2 separate regions of the Homo sapiens genome follow, and region 2 is linked to region 1. The links come from fine-mapping of genetic effects on gene expression. A gene starts in region 1. The other region holds a variant in brackets. All regions are shown on one strand. Distances are from middle to middle. Region 1 holds the start of LRWD1 (leucine rich repeats and WD repeat domain containing 1). Region 2 has its middle 13 kb from the start of SPDYE6.

Region 1 (4,247 bases):
ACACCACCACACCTAGCTAATTTTTAAATTTTTTGTAGAGACAGGGTCTTGCTATGTTGTCCAAGCTGGTCTCAAACTCCTAGACTCAGGCGAGCCTCCTGCCTCAGCCTCCCAAAGGGCTGGGATTATAGGCATGAGCCACCGCACCTGGCCCCTTCCACAAATTAAAACTCTTAAGTTCATTCATATTGTTGTACAGCCGTCACCACCATTCAGAACTTTTTCATCTTGCAAAACTGAAACTCTTTCCCTATTAAACAACAGGTCCCCATCTCCCCTTCCTGAGCCCTTGGCAACAACCCTTCTACTTTCTGTCCCTGTGACTACCCTACGTAGCTCACACAACAGGAATCATGCAGTATTTGTCTTCTGTGACTGCTTCCTTAACTTAGCATCGTGTCCCCAAGGTTCGTCCATGCTGTAACATATGTCAAAATGTCCTTTTTTTTTTTTTTTTTTTTGAGACAGGGTCTCACTATGTTGCCCAAGCTGGAGTGCAGTGGCGTGATCACAGCTCACTGCAGCCTTGACCTCCCAGGCTCAAGCAACCCTCCCACCTCAGCCTCCTGGGTAGCTGGGACTACAGGTACGTGTCACCATGTATGGTTAATTTTTTTGTAGAGGTGGGATTTCACCATGTTGCCCATGCTGGTCTCAAACTCCTGGGCTCTGGCAATCTGCCTGCCTCGGTCTCCCAAAGTGCTGGAATTACAGGTGTGAGCCACTGTGCCCGGCCTGTCCTTCCTTTTTAAGGCTGAATAGTATTCTACTATGTGTATGCACCACATTTTGTGGATCAAGTCATCTCTTTTTTTTTTTTTTTTTTTTTTTTTGAGAAGGAGTCTTGCTCTGTCACCTGAGCTGGAGTGCAGTGGTGCGATCTTGGCTCACTGCAACCTCTGCCTCCTGGGTTCAAGCGATTCTCCTGCCTCAGCCTCCCGAGTAGCTGGGATTACAGATGTGCCTCACCAAGCCCGGCAAGTTTTTGTAATTTTAGTAGAGGCAGGGTTTCGCCATGTTAGCCAGGCAGGTCTCAAACTCCTGACCTCAGGTGATCTGCCCACCTCAGCCTCCCAAAGTGCTGGGATTACAGGCGTGAGCCACTGAACCCGGCCCAGGTATCTTGATAGATGCTTGGTTTGCTTCCATCTTTGGGCTGTCATGAATAATGTCGTGAATATGAACATGGGTGTGCAAATATCTCTTCCAGACCCTGCTTTTAGTTCCTTTGGATATATACCCAGAAGCAGGATTGCGGATCATGGGTAATTCTATGTTTAATTCATGAGGCATGCCATGCTGTTTCCATAGGACCTTGGGCACTTTTACCATGGACGTTGGGGCAGTCTTCACTGGCTTACCAGCCTCCACACCTTCATATCTGCCCGTTCCCTTCCCAGGATCTTTCTAAAATTCACATTTGACTTCATCACTCCTTTAAAACCCTTCAAGAGCTCTCCAGGGCCTTTGGGACAAGTCCAGCCTGCTCAGCTGATGCACCGGGGAGCATCTGTGATCAGACCTCCCCCCCCCCACAACCTCTCCAGCCTCATCTCTCTCACCTGAGGCATCACCAATCCACCTTCCTACCCCACGCAGTTTTCTGGGTTGGAATGCCCTTGCAACCAACCACAGTCCTTCCATGCCAGCCCAAAGGCGCTGAGTTCTTTTTCTTTTTTTATTTATTTTCTTTTTGTGAGACAGAGTCTCGCTCTGTCGCCCAGGCTGAAGTGAGGTGGCTCGATCATAGCTCACTGCAGCCTCCAGCTCCTGGGTTGCAGCGATCCTTGAGTTCCTTTTCGTTAGTTAACTGGAATTCACTGTCTCCTTGCCCATTGCAGTCCACGGCCTTCAGGCACCGTTGGACTGGTATTCAGCACCCTCGATCGACCCTTTCCGTGTCATCTCCCTGCAGGCCCGTGAAGCTCCCAGCGCCAGACCCGAGAGGCTACGTCGAGGTTTACAGGCAGATCCCCCCAGAGTCCCCGAGGTGACCTGTAATCGAACCCACCCACGTTCCAGCTCCTTCCCCACTCCCAAGCCCGCTCCTTAAAGCCCTCATCTCCTCACCCTGCATCACCCCTACCGTAAGGGTCCCTCACAGGCTTCGATCCCGGCCCCTATCATGGCCAAGCTGGACCTCAGTTTCCCCAGATGCAGAGCGACGTTTGTGGGCGCGGCCCCTCTCCCACCCCTTACCGCTGGGGGCAGCTCCCAGGGCGGGTCACTGCCGCGCTGCCGCTCGCAGATCAGACAGGTCCGGATGCCCTTGCAACCGCATTCCCGAAGGACTTCGGGGGTCTCGGCGGCAGCCGCCGCCATCGCGCCGTCCGCGTGGCCAGTGCGCAGGCGCGGCCGTGGGGGCCGCTGGGAGTTGTAGTCCGCGCCGGGCGGGGGCACGAGGCCTGGGTTCCGCTTCCTTCCGGTCGTTAACGCCCACGGGCTCGCGCGGCGCCGCCTCCTGGGCTCAGTTACCGCGGACGCCAGTGCCGGGCTCCAGGAGACGCAGGGCGACGCCACACGCCGGGGTGGCCGACTGGGTCAGCGCGGGCTGCGCCTCCTCGCCATGGGCCCCCTCTCGGCGCGGCTGCTAATGCAGCGCGGGCGCCCCAAGAGCGACCGGCTGGGGAAGATCCGGAGTCTGGAGTAAGAGCCGGGCAGCGGGTGAGGCTGTGTCCTCGGGGCCGGGCGGTCGGGGAGAAGAGCGGGGACCCTCCCCAACGGCCCGCTTGTCCCCGTTATCGCCCTCTGGGTTCGGCAGAGTGGTCCAAATGTCTTCTTGTTGGGAGATCGTGGCCCCACCCGCTCGCCGGGAGCCCCGAGGGGCCTCATCCCCTGAAGGGAGCCCGGACAGTTAGGGGCACAGCCTGCCGCTATCGTTAGAGGGCCTGGGAAGCACAGACGAGCCCCCGAAGGATCAGGAAGAGCATCCTAGAGGGGGCTAGGATGCCCCCGAGTCCTAAAGTAGTTGCAGCTTTTTTTTTTTTTTTTTTTTTTTTTTTTTTTTTTTTGTTAAGTGGTGTGGAGTCGGGAGTAGTGGCGCGCGCTTCTAGTCCCAGCTACTCGAGAGGCTGAGGCGGGAGGATCCCTCAGCCCAGGAGTTGGAGGCAGCTGTGAGCTATGATCGCGCCTAGGCGACTGAGTGACACCCCGTCTCTAAAAATAAAGTAACGGGGGGATGGGCGGGGCGGCTACACTTGTACGAGAAATGTCAGGTGAAAAAGCCTTCTGAGGTACCCGGGGCAGATTGGTGTAGGGTGCAAAGCCTGCCCGCCCCCTAAGCCTTCTGCCCCCAACTCCAGCCTGTCAGGATTGGAGCTGCTTTCCGAGCACCTGGACCCCAAACTCCTGTGCCGCCTGACGCAGCTGCAGGAGCTTGACCTGTCTAACAACCACCTGGAGACGCTGCCGGACAACCTGGGCCTGTCCCACCTGCGTGTCCTCCGCTGCGCCAACAACCAGCTGGGGGATGTTACTGCCTTGTGCCAGTTCCCCAAGCTCGAGGAACTCAGCCTGGAGGGCAACCCCTTCCTGACGGTAAGTGGGAGCCTCCCACCAGCTTCATACCTGGGGCCAGGACTCTGTTGGGCTCAGGCTCAGCATCTCCTGAGCCACTGCTCTTCACCCTCTCTTCCCCAGGTCAATGACAACCTGAAAGTCTCCTTTCTCCTGCCCACGCTCCGTAAGGTCAATGGCAAGGATGCGTCCTCAACTTACTCTCAGGTGGAGAACCTGAATCGGGAGCTGACCAGCAGGGTAAGGGGATGAGAGGATTATTGTGTGCTTAGGAGCTGTGGGGGCATTGGGAGAATGATAGAATTGGACATCAGGAGGATGTTGAGGAGGGTGACTGATAGAGGCTCTTTGCCCCAACAGCCCCTAGCCTGATGTGCTACTTTATTTATTTATTTATTTTTTGAGATGGAGTCTCACTCCGTCGCCCAGGCTGGAGTGCAGTGATGCGATCTTGGCTCATTGCAACCTCTGCCTCCCAGGTTCAAGTGATTTTCCTGCCTCAGCCTCCCGAGTAACTAGGATTACAAGCACCTGCCACCATGCCCAGCTAATTTTTTTTGTATTTTTAGTAGAGACAGGGTTTCACCATGTTGGCCAGGCTGGCCTCAAACTCCTGGCCTTAGGTGATCTGCCCGCCTTGGCCTCCCAAAGTGTCGGGATTACAGGTATGAGTCACCACACCCGGCCTGACTCTTCTAAGTAGCTTTTTCTGGGGTGTTTCTTTTTTACCT
Region 2 (4,512 bases), 120 kb before region 1:
GTCAAAAAAAAAAAAAAAGTTGAACCAGATTTGGTCTGATGCAGTTACAGATCTACAAACCTCACCCCCACCCTTCTGCCAACACCTTCCACTCCTCATTCTTGAGGGATTAGGGATGGAGGTCATGCTTCTGCTTCGACTTCATGCTGAGCAGGGCACTGAGTCCCCTAAAGTGAAAGGAATGAAACTCCTGGGCTTCTGAGTTCAAATGAGTTCTGGGGTCACCCGGAGTAGCTTGAAAGGCTGGTATTGTTGTAATACAAGCTGAAGGTGGAAGTGTTGGATCCTGGAGAACAAACAGCTCACCATCCATTTAAATAAATAGGACCAAAAAGTAACAGAACAGTGGCCACGAGGGGCCCCAACAGAGGAAGAAACCAGGTGAGGTGCGGTATAGTGGACTCGACTGCCTTCTAAATCTCAGTTGTTGGCTGGGTGCGGTGGCTCACACCTGTAATTCCAGCAAAAGAAAAGCCGAGGCAGGGTGATCACGAGGTCAGGAGTTCAAGACCAGCCTGGCAAACATGGTGAAGCCCTGTCTCTACTAAAAATACAAAAATTAGCTAGGCATGGTGGCATGTGCTGTAGTCCCAGCTACTCGGGAGGCTGAGGCAGGAGAATCGCTTGAACCCGGGAGGCGGAGGTTGCAGTGAGCCGAGATTGTGCCACTGCACTCCAGCCTAGGTAACAGAGCAGGACTCCATCTCAGTCAATCAATCAATCAATCAATCTCAGCGGTTGAACTACCCTTGACATGGTTCAGCTCTGTATCCACACCCAAATCTCATGTCAAATTGTAATTCCCAGTGTTGTGGGAGGGACCTGGTGGGAGGTGATTGGCTCATGGGGGCCGACTTCCCCCTTGCTGTTCTCGTGATATTGAGTGAGCGCTTGTGGGATCTGGTTGTTTAAAAGCGTGCAGCCCTCCCACTTCACTCTCTCTGTCTCTCCTGCTCCAACATGGCCAGACGTGCCTGCTTCCCCTTCGCCTTCTGCCGTGATTGTCAGTTTCCTGAGGCCTCCCCAGCCACGCTTCCTGTACAGCCTGCAGAACTGTGAGTCAATTAAACCTCTTTTCTTCATAAATTACCCAGTTTCTCATAGTTCTTTATAGCAGTGTGAAAACAGACTAATGGACCCTTCTGGTTGAAGGAATGCAGCCATTCTGCTTGTTTGACTATGTCCTTTCTATTCATCTCTATTTCCTGGGAGGTGTTTATCCAAGTGCAATAGGAGGTATTGGTGACTGCACAGTCCCCTCAGTGTTCTGCTAGTAAATAGTTGAAGGTTGATCATTGATCTCCTGCGTTTTCAGTCTGGCATGGAAAAGCCCCCATGCAACTGGTAGTAAAGATATCAATAAGCACCAGGAGGTATCTAAATCCACCAGGAGCCATAGGCATCACGTTGACGTCCATTTACCAGTCTTCCCTGGCAAGATTCTTCTGAATTGTGCTGCCTTGGCCAAAAGAGGTGTGGGAGGGGCTGGGCGCAGTGGCTTGTGCCTGTAATCCCAACATTTTGGGAAACCAATTCAGGTGGATCATTAGAGGTCAGGGGTTCAAGACCATCCTGGCCAACATGGTGACATCCCATCTCTACTAAAAATACAATAAGTTAGCTGGGTTTGGTGTTGGGTGCCTGTAATCCCAGCTACTCGAGAGGCTGAGGCAGGATAATCGCTTGAACCTGGGAGGAGGAGGTGGCAGTGAGCTGAGATCGTGCCATTGCACTCCAGCGTGGGCAACAAGAGTGAAACGTCGTCTCAAAAAATAAAAAAAAAAGTCCGGGCGTGATGGCTCACACCTGTAATCCCAGCACTTTGAGAGGCCAAGACGGGTGGATCACGAGGTCAGGAGTTCAAGACCAGCCTGGCCTAGATGGTGAAACCCTGTCTCTACTAAAAATACAAATATTAGCTGGGCATGGTGGCATGCACCTGTAATCTCAGCTACTCAGAAGTCTGATGCAG[G/A]AGAATTGCTAAAACCCAGGAGGGGGAGGTTATATTGAGCTGAGATTGCACCACTGCACTCTAGCCTGGGCGACAGAGCAAGACTCCGTCTCGAAAGAAAGAAAGAGAAAGGAAATTCCCCAGGGAAGTACCTCGGCTGATTTCATAAACAGGTACCGAAGGAAGCAGAGGCATGTGGAGGACTTCCCCACCTCGTGCAGCTATTTGGGCCGTGGCGTCTGAAATTTATTATTTCAGAGTCACCCCTTTGATGACCTTGGCAGTGAACTGCAGTCATCTGTTTAGGCCTTTCCATGGCCCACGTCAATGCCGTTATTTCTGTTTGTTGCACATTTGATTTCCTTGTTGTTGGCATTTAGAAGGCCCCCTGCTTCCCAGATCACACCACGGGCATGGACCACAGAGATTGCATCTTGTGAGTCTGTAGAAATGGTCAAGGCCTTGTCCTCTCTTAGGTCCAGAGCTCAGGTGAATGCAGATTTTCCCGGCCATCTGTGCTGAAGTCCCTGTGGGGAGGCTCCTGGCTGGTTTCCTGTAGGTAGACAGCTACACGTCCTGCCCTTCATTGGCTTCTTTTCATGAAGCTCCTGCCATCTACAAAACATGTCTCCCTTCTTGAATCACTTCTCTGTTATTGAAACTCTAGAAGTCAACCGGGCATGGTGGCTATGCCTATAATCCCAGCATTTTGGGATGCCAAGGCGGGTGGATCACCTGAGGTCAGGAGTTCAAGACCAGCCTGGCCAACATGGCGAAACCCCGTCTCTAATACAAATACAAAAATTAGCCAAGCATGGTGGCCACTGTACTCCAGCCTGGGCGACAGAGCAAGACTCTGTCTCGAAAAAAAAAAAAAAAAAAAAAAGAGAAAGAAAGTATCATGCTTTTCTGCATTCTGTGAATTGTTTTAGTGAGTTATCGAACTTGAGGGCATGGTGGGAACCTCCAAATTTGCAGCCAGTTGGTGAGAAGTACATGTGGTCTGAGGACACCCAAGCCTGCAGGTGTGTCTAAAGCGAGGGCAGCCTAGTAGGGGCTGGTGGCCTTAACCTGTGGCATTTGAGGTAACATCAGGGAGTTGACATCAGAATTGCATCACATAGGCTGGGCGCGGTGGCTCACACCTGTAATCCTAGCACTTTGGGAGGCCAAGGCGGGCAGATCACGAGGTCAGGAGATCGAGACCATCCTGGCTAAGACAGTGAAATCCCGTCTCTACTAAAAATACAAAAAATTAGCCAGGCATGGTGGCGGGCGCCTGTAGTCCCAGCTACTTGGGAGGCTGAGGCAGGAGAATGGCGTGAACCCAGGAGGCGGAGCTTGCATTGAGCCAAGATCACGCCACCGCACTCCAGCCTGGGTGACAGAGCGAGACTCCATCCCCCCCCCAAAAAAAAAAAGACCAAAAACAGAATTGTGTCTCAGGCCAGATGCAGTGGCTCATGCTTATAATCCCAGCAATTTGAAAGGCAAGGTAAGAAGATCGCTTGAGCTTGAGTCTGAGGCCGCAGTGAGCTATGACCACACCACTGCACCCCAGTCTGGGTGACAGCGCAAGACCCCAACTCCAAAAAGGAAAAAGAAAAATCACAAAGAATTGCATGTCAGAGTGCCTGTCTTTCACAGCTTTAACTGCTGCAGGAACGAACTTTTTTTTTTTTTTTTTTTTTGAGAGGGTGTGAGGAGACACAATCTCTGCTAGTGATTCTCCTGCCTCAGCCTCCCAAATAGCTGGGATTATAGGCGTGCACCACCACGCCTGCCTAATTTTTGTATTTTTAGTAGAGACAGGGTTTCACCATGTTGGCCAGGCTGGTCTCAAACTCCTGCTGGGATCATGGGCGTGAGCCACCACGCCCGGCCACCTTTAGAGTTTTCTTACCACCTGGTTTTCCTCTCTCAATATCTTTCTCTCATTTCCTGCCTTAAAACTCTAGCTTGGCATCTGGGCGCAGTAGCTCATGCCTGTAATCCCAGCACTTTGGGAGGCCGAGGTAGGTGGATCACTTGAAGTCAGGAGTTCGAGACCAGCCTGGCCAACATGGTGAAACCTTGTCTCTACTATTTTTACAAAAGTTAGTCGGACGTACAGACGGGTGCCTGTAGTCCCAGCTACTTGGGAGGCTGAGGCAGGAGAATTTGTTTGAACCCAGAGGTGAAAGTTGCAGGGAGCCGAGGTTGTGCCACTGCACTCCAGCCTGGGAGACAGAGCAAGACTCTGTCTCCAAAACAAACAAACAAACAAAAAAACCCTGTAGCTTGGGATCAGCCTTCTCTTCTATTGTTTTTCTTTAAAAAATAAAAATTAAAAATAGATGTAGATGCTATGTTGCTGAGGCTGGCCTCAAACTCCTGGCCTCAGGTGATCCTCCCACCATGACCTCCAAAACCGCAGGGATTGTAGGTGTGAGCACTGCACCCAGCCTTATGTTTTTTTCTACATAAAAAACAGCACAGGATTATCTTCCAGAGCTAATAAATATGTTCAAATAACCACAACCCCATTAAGGAAAAATATCACTGGGCAGCAAATAATCAAT

What was found. PIP is the estimated chance that this variant, and not a neighbour inherited with it, causes the effect.
Region 2: its variant is the best candidate, but not a certain one, in a credible set for the expression of LRWD1 in whole blood (INTERVAL, PIP 0.59).

What each region holds. Positions count from the first base shown.
Region 1 is chr7:102,462,515-102,466,761 of GRCh38, forward strand. It overlaps LRWD1 (leucine rich repeats and WD repeat domain containing 1), which reads left to right and starts at 2,470. Exons shown (of 15, transcript NM_152892.3): 1 at 2,470-2,646; 2 at 3,303-3,537; 3 at 3,640-3,756. The coding sequence starts at 2,567. ALKBH4 (alkB homolog 4, lysine demethylase) reads right to left here and starts at 2,349. Exons shown (of 3, transcript NM_017621.4): 1 at 2,200-2,349. The coding sequence starts at 2,322. It overlaps MIR5090 (microRNA 5090), which reads left to right and starts at 3,228; the gene lies at 3,228-3,312. RefSeq lists enhancers at 2,092-2,741, 2,871-3,397, 3,021-3,120, 3,398-3,923 and a silencer at 2,251-2,680.
Region 2 is chr7:102,341,214-102,345,725 of GRCh38, forward strand. No RefSeq gene overlaps it. Among named protein-coding and RNA genes, the nearest start is that of SPDYE6, 13 kb to the right of the region's middle. The variant G/A (reference allele first, on the strand shown) is at 1,973.